3 separate regions of the Homo sapiens genome follow, and regions 2 and 3 are each reported to be linked to region 1. The links are microRNA targets in miRTarBase. Many come from high-throughput screens and were not tested one by one. Region 1 holds a microRNA gene; each other region holds the end of a gene's coding sequence.
The links. Region 1 holds the annotated microRNA hsa-miR-10b-5p (UACCCUGUAGAACCGAAUUUGUG, at 2,366-2,388, shown strand). A microRNA usually pairs through its seed, bases 2 to 8, with sites in the 3' UTR of a target mRNA and lowers its output. Matches are read on the target gene's strand: a 7mer-m8 pairs with bases 2 to 8, a 7mer-A1 pairs with bases 2 to 7 and ends in A, and an 8mer does both.

Region 2: the mRNA of CHPF2 is a reported target of hsa-miR-10b-5p. The part of its 3' UTR that is shown has no 7-base or 8-base seed match.
Region 3: the mRNA of FUT6 is a reported target of hsa-miR-10b-5p. The part of its 3' UTR that is shown has no 7-base or 8-base seed match.

Annotation. Positions count from the first base shown.
Region 1 is chr2:176,147,964-176,152,110 of GRCh38, forward strand. MIR10B (microRNA 10b) reads left to right here and starts at 2,340; the gene lies at 2,340-2,449. It overlaps HOXD4 (homeobox D4), which reads left to right and starts at 3,587. Exons shown (of 2, transcript NM_014621.3): 1 at 3,587-4,103. The coding sequence starts at 3,671. RefSeq lists enhancers at 234-777, 3,306-4,039.
Region 2 is chr7:151,238,341-151,242,340 of GRCh38, reverse strand. It overlaps CHPF2 (chondroitin polymerizing factor 2), which reads right to left. Exons shown (of 4, transcript NM_019015.3): 4 at 3,519-4,000. The coding sequence ends at 3,660. It overlaps SMARCD3 (SWI/SNF related BAF chromatin remodeling complex subunit D3), which reads left to right. Exons shown (of 13, transcript NM_001003801.2): 6 at 109-204; 7 at 363-464; 8 at 688-849; 9 at 1,819-1,916; 10 at 2,094-2,229; 11 at 2,595-2,717; 12 at 2,844-2,945; 13 at 3,185-3,561. The coding sequence ends at 3,238. MIR671 (microRNA 671) reads right to left here and starts at 3,920; the gene lies at 3,803-3,920. LOC124901779 (a long non-coding RNA gene) reads right to left here and starts at 2,680. Exons shown (of 2, transcript XR_007060596.1): 1 at 2,589-2,680; 2 at 1,362-2,322. RefSeq lists enhancers at 333-834, 1,591-2,790.
Region 3 is chr19:5,827,922-5,831,921 of GRCh38, forward strand. FUT6 (fucosyltransferase 6) reads right to left here. Exons shown (of 3, transcript NM_000150.4): 3 at 2,487-4,000. The coding sequence ends at 3,567. It overlaps NRTN (neurturin), which reads left to right. Exons shown (of 3, transcript NM_004558.5): 3 at 1-403. The coding sequence ends at 252. Among named protein-coding and RNA genes, the nearest start is that of FUT6, 9.8 kb to the right of the region's middle. RefSeq lists an enhancer at 1-502 and silencers at 110-439, 1,140-1,189.

The DNA of each region.
Region 1 (4,147 bases):
CACAGGTGCAGCTCCGCCAAGGCGCTCACTTCTGTTAAGAGCTTGCTAATTAGCAGCCTGTCTTATTAGCGGCTTCAAACCAACGCAGTAAACACCAAGGCAATGCGGTCCCCTCCGCAGCCCAACCCTTCTTAACCTGGTCTAGCCTGGCCAACCTTCTGTTTTTAAAAAAATTCACTGAAAACAAAAACTCAATCCTCTGTGGCCGTGGGTGTGTTGAGTTGCCCGCTTCTGAGCTTTATGTGGACATTCCTTCCCCGCCCCTCCCCCGATCTGTTTGCAGCGGTGTGGGCCCTGGGCTTGGGACACTGGCTGAGCGAGGAGGGATACGGACCTTCTTTTCACCTCTGCTTCTCTGTAACTGCAGTTGGAGAATTTCCGCCCCAGAGGCGCTGGTGCTGCAAGGAGGCATAGGAGGGTGGAGTGGGGTGGATGCGGTGGGGTGGGGCCAGAGACTCGTGGGATCCTTGGCTTGGATGTTTGGATCTTTCTGAGTTGCCTGTGCCGCGAAAGACAGGTACATTTCTGATTAGGCCTGTGAAGCCTCCTGGAGGACCATCTCATTAAGACGATGGTATTGGAGGGAGAGTCACAGAAAGAACTGTGGCCCCTCCCTCACTGCAAAACGGAAGTGATTTTATTTTAATGGGAGTTGGAATATGTGAGGGCTGCAGGAACCAGTCTCCCTCCTTCTTGGTTGGAAAAGCTGGGGCTGGCCTCAGAGACAGGTTTTTTGGCCCCGCTGGGCTGGGCAGTCTAGTCGACCCTTTGTAGACTGTGCACACCCCTAGAAGAGCAACTACCCCTATACACCAGGCTGGCTCAAGTGAAAGGGGCTCTGGGCTCCAGTCTGGAAAATCTGGTGTCCTGGGGACCTCTGGTCTTGCTTCTCTCCTCCCCTGCACTGGCTCTGGGTGCTTATCTCTGCAGAAGCTTCTCGCTAGCAAACCCACATTCAGCGCCCTGTAGCTGAACACAGCACAAAAAGCCCTAGAGATCAAAAGCATTAGTATGGGCAGTTGAGCGGGAGGTGAATATTTAACGCTTTTGTTCATCAATAACTCGTTGGCTTTGACCTGTCTGAACAAGTCGAGCAATAAGGTGAAATGCAGGTCACAGCGTCTAACAAATATGAAAATGTGTATATTCACCCCGGTCTCCAGCCGGCTCAGCAGGCTCCCCCAATTTGTCTGGATAGAGCCTAGGCCCAGTGTCCCAGGAAGGTGGATACTTGGGAGTCTTTGGCATTCAGGGAAATTGGGGGGACTCTCCTGGGATAAACAGATTCTGCAGCCTCATAGCCCTTGTTAGAACTGGCGCCCCCAAAATCCCTACGAAACAGGTAAAGTGGTGGAAGCAAAGGATGGGGGGATGAGCAAAGTGCCAGGCTTGGAGGGGGAGTATCCCTGCCCCACCCCACCAGGCCCAGGCCCAGGCTTGAAACTAAATTTTGAATTATGTGGGAGGTAGGAAGGGCAATCAAGACAGTTAAAAAAAAATCTAACACCTTCAGCCTACAGTTAGGCACCCAAAAGCCCCACTCGAGCCAGGGCATCCCTGTGCCCCTGAAATCCATCGAGGCTCTGAGTGAGTCTGCGCTCTCCATGCCCTGAACTGAGGGACAAGCACTGCACAGTGCCGAGGCGCTGGGGCGGGTGAAATTTGTGAACTTTTGTACTCTTGTGTGCTGCTGTCGGCAAAGCAAAAATAATGAAAGTTTGTGATATGTTTGTAAATGATTTCGAATGACCCCTCGCCCTGCCCTTCACCATTAGCGCGCCGGCCTCAGCCCAAGGCGGCTCGGTGCCTGTGAGCAGCGCCTGCCTCGGGGTCTGCAGCAGCAGCGGAACGGAGAGGCCAGCCCGGATCAGGGCCCATGAAGGTAAATGCGCGACTTCTTGGAGAAGTAGCTTTGGCAGACAACCTGGCTTGGTCGGGCAGTAGGAAAAGGAGTAGACACAGGATATTCCCCTCTCGCTTCTTTTTCTTCTGCCGCTGAGGGCATTTGTTCCTTTCTGGAAAATACCACTTGGTAAGGAGGAGGGTTATTTGGATCCTGGTGGGGGAGGGTGGTTAATAAAGCCGCCATCCTTGGGATGGATTATTTTTCTTTCTTTCTTTCTTTTTTTCTTTCTTAAGAAGAATATTCTGGTTGTTCGCCTGCTTGGTAACCCTGACCCTGGCAGAAGAATGAGGGAACTCATTGCTTCAAATTGTCGCCAAGCCCATTAGGCTACCTGAACTGTCTCAGAAAGTGCGGGTGGCTGCGTCGAACGGTGGTGGCTCAGAGGAAGAGATTGGGGCCGGCAGCGACCTAGGTACCTCACTCTGGGTGGGACCCAGAGGTTGTAACGTTGTCTATATATACCCTGTAGAACCGAATTTGTGTGGTATCCGTATAGTCACAGATTCGATTCTAGGGGAATATATGGTCGATGCAAAAACTTCACGTTTCTTCGGAATAGCCAGAGACCAAAGTGCGACATGGAGACTAGAAGCAGCCGGCGCTGGTCAGCCGCCTCGTTCTGTTTTATTACCTTGGACTCCAGGAGGATCAGCTGCGCCTGGTGACATAGAGCAGCTTTTCCTCTCCAGAAGCTCCTCACCTTTAAACAGAGTATCCTCTGGGTGCTGAAAAGAAAGAAAGACAGAAAGAGAGAAAGAGAGAGAGAGAGAGAAAGAGAGAATGCAAGCCTAATTGGTTGCATGGATGCAGGGCCAAAGGGCTAGGTTTTGGGGTACTAGGGAGTGAGGTACAAGGCCAGCTTGCCCAGTCCCAGCTCTGCCCTCCAGGAACATGAGGTGCAAAGGTACCCAAATGGGGGCTTGCTTGTATTTGGGGCCTGTGGGAAGAAAGCAAGCTTCAAAGAAGCCCAGTGGGGAGCTCTAGGGTGCATTTTGACAAGGTGGAGGTGCCCTTGCCACCATCCCAGCCCACCCCCAGCTACATGGGCAAGGGCAGCGAGGGCCCCCTGCTATTTTGGCAGGGCCCAGCTTTGGCTGGGAACCCCCGGGCCTGGGCACTGGTAGAAAGCATGGCGGTTACTCATTGCCTAATTTGATTCAAGCTGGCCAGATTCTGGTAACTTTTGGGTGACCCTGATGAAGACAAAGCCAGGACGGCGGCCTTTGTATGGCAGAATCCCTGCTCCCGCCGGCTGCAGGCAGGGCGGGCAGGCAGGAACCCTCCTCGCCTGGGGCACTCTGCCCAACTCAGAGGCGAGTTCACCCACCCACCTTTCATTGCTCTGTACCCCAATAGGAGGATTCATTCTCCCTTGAGCTGTGCCTACTTGGTGTCGGGGGGCGGGGGTTGCATTCAGCTGGGGGTGAGTGGAAGGGCCACGGAAGGTTGGCAAAATCAGTGGCAGACAAAAGCTGGGATTACCTGAGGGGAATGGGGTGCTGGGGACTGGAACTACATTAATATCTGGCAGGGGCTCTCAAATGTGCCATAGCAAGCTACTTGATTACACGTATGTTATTTAGTTAAATTTGTGAAAATTATGAGATGCTCACCAACCCGGTGATAAACTTGCTCCCTCGCCATTGGCTGGCCTGGTCACATGGCTGCCCAACTTTATTCAGTTGACAGCAAGTAGGAGGGCCCTATGGAAGGAGAAAAAAAGACAACACGAGAAAAATTAGTATTTTCTACCTTCTGAAATTAATGGTCATGAGTTCGTATATGGTGAACTCCAAGTATGTGGACCCCAAGTTCCCTCCGTGCGAGGAGTATTTGCAGGGCGGCTACCTAGGCGAGCAGGGCGCCGACTACTACGGCGGCGGCGCGCAGGGCGCAGACTTCCAGCCCCCGGGGCTCTACCCACGGCCCGACTTCGGTGAGCAGCCTTTCGGAGGCAGCGGCCCCGGGCCTGGCTCGGCGCTGCCTGCGCGGGGTCACGGACAAGAGCCAGGCGGCCCCGGCGGTCACTACGCCGCTCCAGGAGAGCCTTGCCCAGCTCCCCCGGCGCCTCCGCCGGCGCCCCTGCCTGGCGCCCGGGCCTACAGTCAGTCCGACCCCAAGCAGCCGCCCTCCGGGACGGCACTCAAGCAGCCGGCCGTGGTCTACCCCTGGATGAAGAAGGTGCACGTGAATTCGGGTAAGGCTAGGGTCCAGTAACCTTTCTGTCCACATCCCAGCCCG
Region 2 (4,000 bases), not on the chromosome of region 1:
GAGGATTTCATCTAAGCCCACTGCCCTGTCGGCTGCCAACTTGGCCTCCTTCTGCTCCTCCCACCTCGTCCCTGTTCTGCCCCCATGGTCCCTGTTGCTCTCCCACAGCCCAGCAAACAGAAGCGGAAGTTCTCTTCTTTCTTCAAGAGTTTGGTCATCGAGCTGGACAAAGATCTTTATGGCCCTGACAACCACCTCGTTGAGGTAAGACCAAGAGCCCCTCCGCCCTTGAATTGCCACCCTCCCACAGGCCAGAATCCCTGAAGAACCAGCACAGATTTGGGTCAGGGACCACCCTAGAGTCCTGGGCCCCACCACTCCAGATGGGCCTTTGGGAGACACAGCTCTTCTCTCCTGGACAGTGGCATCGGACACCCACGACCCAGGAGACGGACGGCTTCCAGGTGAAACGGCCTGGGGACCTGAGTGTGCGCTGCACGCTGCTCCTCATGCTGGACTACCAGGTCTGCACCTGCCATGCTGCCCCGTACACGCCACACAAGGCCCTCAGGGCAGGGCTAGGTCCCAAAGTGGTGCATCTTGAGAGACCTCCTTCCCCTCCCAAACCTATCCTTCCCCAGGGGCATGTTTCCTCAATCAACACATCCCCCTAGTCCTGAATGGCCTGGCCCTGGGCTCCTTCCTTTCTCTCCCTTTGGTCTAACTTTCACAGTCCCCTTTTCCCAGCCTCCCCAGTTCAAACTGGATCCCCGCCTAGCCCGGCTGCTGGGGCTGCACACACAGAGCCGCTCAGCCATTGTCCAGGCCCTGTGGCAGTATGTGAAGACCAACAGGCTGCAGGACTCCCATGACAAGGAATACATCAATGGGGACAAGTATTTCCAGCAGGTAACCTCTCTCCTGAACCCTGGGATCTGGGGAGCAGGCGGAGTTCTCCAGCAGGGGAAGTACCTCTACCAAGGTAACTACCACCCCTCCCTTCTAGATTCCTGAGTAGCAGAAGCAGTACACAGTCATGGTCTTGGAGCCAAGAGACCGACCAGGATTCTAGTTCAGGCCCTACTGTGGATTAGCTCTGTGCTGCAGCCAATCCATGTTAGCCCCCCCAAGTTAGGAAGACCTGGAAACCCTACAAAGCCAACCGCTTTCTGGAATGTAATATTCTTGGCACTTGGAGTTAGGATCCCCAGGTTCTAGTCCTGAGTCTGGACTCTGGGTAAGTGACTCAGCGATTCTGAACCTTGTTTCCTTATCTTTGAAGTGGAGTGACAATACCTGTCCTATCTACTCTCCTGGGCAGTTAGGAAAATCAAATTGCTGCAAAAGTGATTGAGCAAAATTCCACCAAAACAGAGAATATTCTTATTAATGCATTTAAAAATAAATACAGCAGATAAACCTGAGGAGTAAAAATAGCAGTTGATATTTATTGGGCACTTACCATGTGCCAGGCACTGTCCCAAGCACTTTATGTGTATTAGTTCACTGACTTCTCACGGCAGCCCTGGGAGATAGGTATTCTTTTCATCCCCACTCTAGAGATGAAGACACTGAGCCCTGAGGTGTTAACTTGCTCCAGGTTGCATAGTAAGTGGCAGAGGCAGGACTGATACATAAGCAGGCTGACCCAGGGCCCGCACTCTCAACCCCTGCCCCACACTGACCCACCCCCTATCTTGTCAGCCATACCGGTGGCTCCACCACCAGACCAGCCCACCCCAATCCCATCCCCATGCGCACTGAGGAATCAGACTTCCTCTCAGCTTCTTGTGGCCTTTCTAGAACAAAAGGATCTACAACTGCATGATGATCTCTTCAAGAAGAGTGATCTCTCTCTCCCCAATTGTCCTGCTTCAGATTTTTGATTGTCCCCGGCTGAAGTTTTCTGAGATTCCCCAGCGCCTCACAGCCCTGCTATTGCCCCCTGACCCAATTGTCATCAACCATGTCATCAGGTGAGGTGGCCCCAGCTTGCTTCTCAGACCAGGGAATGATCTCGTTCCTGCCTTCCCTGCCCCTCCCTCTCCTCCCACTCCCATCTCTTCTCCCTCCCTGTTGGATCTGCCCCAGCCCCGGGGCCCTGGGGCCGTATGGGGGCATCGTGGACACGAAGGGCTGGACTTCCCTGGCAGCGTGGACCCTTCAGACCAGAAGAAGACGGCGTGCTATGACATTGACGTGGAGGTGGAGGAGCCATTAAAGGGGCAGATGAGCAGCTTCCTCCTATCCACGGCCAACCAGCAGGAGATCAGTGCTCTGGACAGTAAGGTGGGGCCCAAGCCCAGAGCTGGAGTGGGACATTAACCCAGAGATGATAGAGGAGACTTTTCTGAGACCAGGGTGTGGTTGCAGATGAGCAGTCTGGGTTAAATTAAAAAAAAAAAAAAAAAAGAGACCAGACTCTGGGCCAATGGGACACACATGGCCCGTCCATGCTGCTTGGAGCTGAACCTCATTCCAAGTTTAGTTCTGCCCATCCCCTCCTCCCCTGGGACTTCAGAGAAATCAGGGGCTCTGAGGGGTTGTCCTTCACAGAAGAAACCCCCTCTCCCTCCCCTTCCCACCCGCTTCCTTTCCCCTCGTCTCCCACATCACCAAAGCCAGGTGGAAAGCATCTATCTTTCTACCTGCAGATCCATGAGACGATTGAGTCCATAAACCAGCTCAAGATCCAGAGGGACTTCATGCTAAGCTTCTCCAGAGACCCCAAAGGCTATGTCCAAGACCTGCTCCGCTCCCAGAGCCGGGACCTCAAGGTGAAGAGGGAGACTCAGGGAGTACTGGAGTGGAAGACAAGCACAGCGGGAAAGAGAGTAAACGTTGTACTCCAGGGGCAGGTGAGGGGATTCAGGGCTCAGGGCTCACCCCACGCTCCCTCCCAGGTGATGACAGATGTAGCCGGCAACCCTGAAGAGGAGCGCCGGGCTGAGTTCTACCACCAGCCCTGGTCCCAGGAGGCCGTCAGTCGCTACTTCTACTGCAAGGTATGCAGGGACCCTTGCCCTGAGGCTTCCCCATCCTCAACTCCAAGAGAAACCTCCCTGTTCAGCTTGTGGGCAGCCCTCGCAGCTCCCCACAGTAAAGCTTCACCACGCTGCCTCACCATGCAATGGCCCTCCCTGCTCCCAGATGCTCTTTCAGGGCAGGCGGTGTCAGTAGGTGGGATTGTCCTGATCACTCACCAGAACACTGACACCTGCTCCTGTTCTCACTTCCTCTAAAGATCCAGCAGCGCAGGCAGGAGCTGGAGCAGTCGCTGGTTGTGCGCAACACCTAGGAGCCCAAAAATAAGCAGCACGACGGAACTTTCAGCCGTGTCCCGGGCCCCAGCATTTTGCCCCGGGCTCCAGCATCACTCCTCTGCCACCTTGGGGTGTGGGGCTGGATTAAAAGTCATTCATCTGACAGCAGCCGTGTGGTCATTGGAAACTGGGGAGGGGAGGGGGAGAGAAGGGGAAGGGAAGAAGGTGGGGAGGCAGTGGGTCCCTCGGGACGACTCCCCATTCCCTTCCCTTGGATTCTTCTCCTTACTCAATTTTCCCTAGACCTAAAAACAGTTTGGCAGAAGACATGTTTAATAACATTTTCATATTTAAAAAATACAGCAACAATTCTCTATCTGTCCACCATCTTGCCTTGCCCTTCCTGGGGCTGAGGCAGACAAAGGAAAGGTAATGAGGTTAGGGCCCCCAGGCGGGCTAAGTGCTATTGGCCTGCTCCTGCTCAAAGAGAGCCATAGCCAGCTGGGCACGGCCCCCTAGCCCCTCCAGGTTGCTGAGGCGGCAGCGGTGGTAGAGTTCTTCACTGAGCCGTGGGCTGCAGTCTCGCAGGGAGAACTTCTGCACCAGCCCTGGCTCTACGGCCCGAAAGAGGTGGAGCCCTGAGAACCGGAGGAAAACATCCATCACCTCCAGCCCCTCCAGGGCTTCCTCCTCTTCCTGGCCTGCCAGTTCACCTGCCAGCCGGGCTCGGGCCGCCAGGTAGTCAGCGTTGTAGAAGCAGCCCTCCGCAGAAGCCTGCCGGTCAAATCTCCCCCCTA
Region 3 (4,000 bases), not on the chromosome of region 1:
CTGGGCCTGGGCTACGCGTCCGACGAGACGGTGCTGTTCCGCTACTGCGCAGGCGCCTGCGAGGCTGCCGCGCGCGTCTACGACCTCGGGCTGCGACGACTGCGCCAGCGGCGGCGCCTGCGGCGGGAGCGGGTGCGCGCGCAGCCCTGCTGCCGCCCGACGGCCTACGAGGACGAGGTGTCCTTCCTGGACGCGCACAGCCGCTACCACACGGTGCACGAGCTGTCGGCGCGCGAGTGCGCCTGCGTGTGACCCTACCTCACTCGGCCGGCGCGGCGGCCACTCCCCCCGCCTCGACGGCACCACTGGCCGGCCCCGCGAAAGACTGCGCGTGCGTAGAGCACGCCGGCGCGGCCCCGGGACTCTCGCGATAACTGTACTGAGATAAAGTGTGGCAACTCGAGCTGGCTGGTGATTCATCCTCGGCGAGGGGCTCGCGTGTGGGCCACGTCGCCGTCTCCACCGGGAAAGCGGGGACCAGTGGGGGGGGCCCAGCTGCAGGGTAGTGGGAGGATGCTGTTTGCTTTGGGGGAAGGGTAGATGCAAAGTGGGTCCAGTTTATGGCGGACAAAAAGGAAAATGGGGTGAATGGGGCTATGTTGGCAGGGACCGTCCTTCCTGCCTCCCTACGGGTCCCTCTGCCCGTCCCGAGCGTGTTCCGGTCCGCACCTCTTCGCTGTGTGGGCTTCTGGGGAGGGGAAAGGGAAGCTACGCTCGGATGAAGAGACCGAGGTCTAGGTGGACCCCGTTTCCCCAGCTTGTTCCCTTCCGCACCTCTCCGCGGTGCGGGCTTCTGGGATGAAGACACTGAAGTCTAGGTGGGCCCAGTTTCCCCAGATTGTCGCTGACTGCACCTCTCGCTTCTGGGATGAAGAGACTGAGGTCTAGGTGGACCCAGTTTCCCCAGCTTGTTCCTGACTGCACCTCTCTGCTGTGTGGACTTCTGGAGAGGGGGAAAGGGGGAGACACTGTGGGTGAGGAGCCTGAGATCCAGGTGGAATCAGTTCCCCAGCGTCTCCCTGTCCGCACTGATCCCGCTATGTGGGTTTCTAGGAAGGGGGAGCCACTCTGGGGGTGAGGAGAGTGAGGTCCAGGTGGACCTGGGCCTCCCTTATCCGACGGCCTCCTCGGGCCGGTCTTCGCCCACCAGGGTGAGCTGAAAGCCACTATCTCCTTCCACCAGCTACTAAAAATACCCGCACGCTGCCCACCTCCCGGCGGGGAGAGGCCTGGGGCGGGCGCCAGCCCCATCCAGCCCGAAGCCGGCGCCTGCTGGTGTAGAGCTGGGTCCCCAGAGACCTGGGTCCTCGGCCCATAAAAGCCCTGGCCGGGCCTCCACGGGGGGGATTTACGACGAGCCCCTGCGGAGTATGGAAAAAGCCCGGCTCGGTGTTTAGATTTCCCCACGGTGTCACCTTGATGCTTGGCAGGCCTCGGGTGTTGGGTTGCCAGAGCGCGGGAGGGGTCGGCGGGTCCCACGGTCGGTCTGAGGGGCGGGGAAGGGGCGGGCACTGCGAGCCCAGAGCAGGCACCGGCGAGGCGAGACTCCTCCCCTCCTGCCCCTCAGACTGGGGGTTCCCAAGGCTACAACCCTTCTCCTTAGCTGGGCCCCCTCCCCTCCTTCCCACACGTCTGCCCTTAGGACCACCCTCTAACCACAGTGTCCCTTCCCAGGCTCAGCCCGCATCCCCCCACCCCCCGCAAAGCTGGAGGGCGCAGATCGGAAACCGCCCCCAGGGAGAATCACCCAGCCATGAAGGAACATCCCTAGCCCCTGGCTCCCGGGGACCCACAGCTACAGCTGGAGACACTCAAGGCGGCTAATCAGCAGGACTTCCAGGGAGCCCTGAGAGCAGGGCTTGGCGGCCAGGCGGGTGATCTGCTTGGGAAGCAGTTTCAGGGCTGCCGCTGGCTGGGGTCCCCGCCTACCCCCGCAGTCTTCTGACTCTGAGGTTTAAGGTGGTGGATTCCTCCACCCTTTGGGCCGACTCAGCCCGGCCTCCGCAGAGAGGCCGGAGTTCCCAGACGCTGCGGAAGCCCAAGTGACGCTTACTCCGAGCCTCAGTTTCCCCATCCTAGATGGCCTGGCCTCAGAGAGGAGTGTTGTTCAGCCCAGGACACACAGCGAGAAAGCTGACCATCAGGGGTCTGCCGCCCCCCCGAAGCTCCCCTGCCACAGTGTGCATGTGTGTGTGAGTGTTGCCCACCCTCCGGGGCCTCCCGGACCTCGGCCTTCCTGTCTCCCACCCAGATCCAGCGTCCCAACCACAGGGCGCGGGCCCAGCCCACCAGGGAATTGGAACATAAATAAACCGAGAAGCCCCTGCAGTTCCCTGGGGCTGCGGTTGTCATCAGCGCATCGGCACACCGGATGAGGGTCTCTCTCACACACACACACAAGCACACTCACAAGACACAGAGATCACCACCCATAAGGGCTCAGCAGGCAGGACCCATGATCCTACACAGTCACCTTCCACACAGAATTGCACACTCAGAAAGGGACACTCCCCCCTTTTTTTTTTTTTCTTGAGACAGTCTCACTGTGTCGCCCAGGTTGGAGTGCAGTGGTGCGATCATGGCTCCCTACAACATCTGCCTCCTGGGTTCAAGCGATTCTTGTGTCTCAGCCACCTGGGTAGCTGGGATTACAGGCACCGGCCACCGCACCCAGCTAATTTTTTTTTTTTTTTTTTTTTTTTTTGAGACAGAGTCTCGCTCTGTCGCCAGGCTGGAGTGCAGTGGCGCGATCTCGGCTTACTGCAACCTCCGACTCTCTGGTTCAAGCGATTCTCCTGCCTCAGCTTCCCAAGTAGCTGGGATTACAGGCATGCACCACCACGCCCGGCAAATTTTTGTATTTTTAGTAGAGACGGGTTTCACCATATTGGCCAGGATGGTCTCGATCTCCTGACCTTGTGATCCGCCTGCCTCGGCCTCCCAAAGTGCTGGGATTACAGGTGTGAGCCACCGCACCCGGCCTCATCATCGGTTTTCTTTGCAGTATTACATCTGGAAACGGTGCGGTGATTATCTCTCTGCACCCCTCACAGGCGGCTAACAACATCACAAACAAATCAGCCAGAACCATCACTCATGGGTGGGGCCCCATGGGTGCCAGTTCCCAGGGCCCAGTGCCCTCCAGGGTGAGGTCCCCAGCAGGTGAGGCTCCTAGCAGGTGAGATTCAGTGTGGAAGGTCTCTGGGAGCAGGTCCCAGCAGGTAAAGTCCCCAACAGCCGAGGTCCCCAGTAGGCAAAGTCCCCAGGAGACATCCCCAGCAGGCCAGGCTTCCGCAGGGGACGCTCCTGGAAGCCAGCATGTGAAATCCCAGGTAAGGGACATACCTGGCCACCGAAGACTCCAGCAGGTGAGGCCCCAGGAAAGTGAGGACCCAGGTAGGTGAATCCCCAGGCAGGTGAAGCTGCAACAGGTGACCGTCCCAGGCAGGTGAGTCCTCAGGCAGGTGAAGCTTCAGGCAAACGAGTCCTTAGGTAGATGAGGCCCCCACTCAGGTGAGGCCCCAGGAAAATGAGGTTCCTGGCAGCCCAGGCCCCACACCAGCCTCTCAGGTGAACCAAGCCGCTATGCCGCGTGTCTGGTACCTGGATTCCTCCTGCAGTTTCCAGCAGGCCTTGCAGAAAGCGAGTGCCCAGCTGAAGGAGCGAGGCCGCAGCGTCTCCCGCCAGCGAAAGTAGCTCAGGTAGCGGGCGTGGTCCTTGTCCAGCTCCTGCAGGTACCGGGCCAGGTCCTTGGGGCTCTGGAAGTCGTCCACGTGGATGAAGGCGTCGGGTGGCAGGAACCTCTCGTAGTTGCTTCTGCTGGGGCCCAGCACCACGGGCACGGCCCAGGCCTCCAGGGCGTTCCTCCACAGCTTCTCGGTGATGTAGTCGGGGTGCAAGGAGTTCTCGAAGGCCAGATAGAACTTGTACCGGGACAGCGTCTCCATCATGGTTCCCTGGGGCAGGGGCTTGTGGGAGCGTCCGTACACGTCCACCTTGA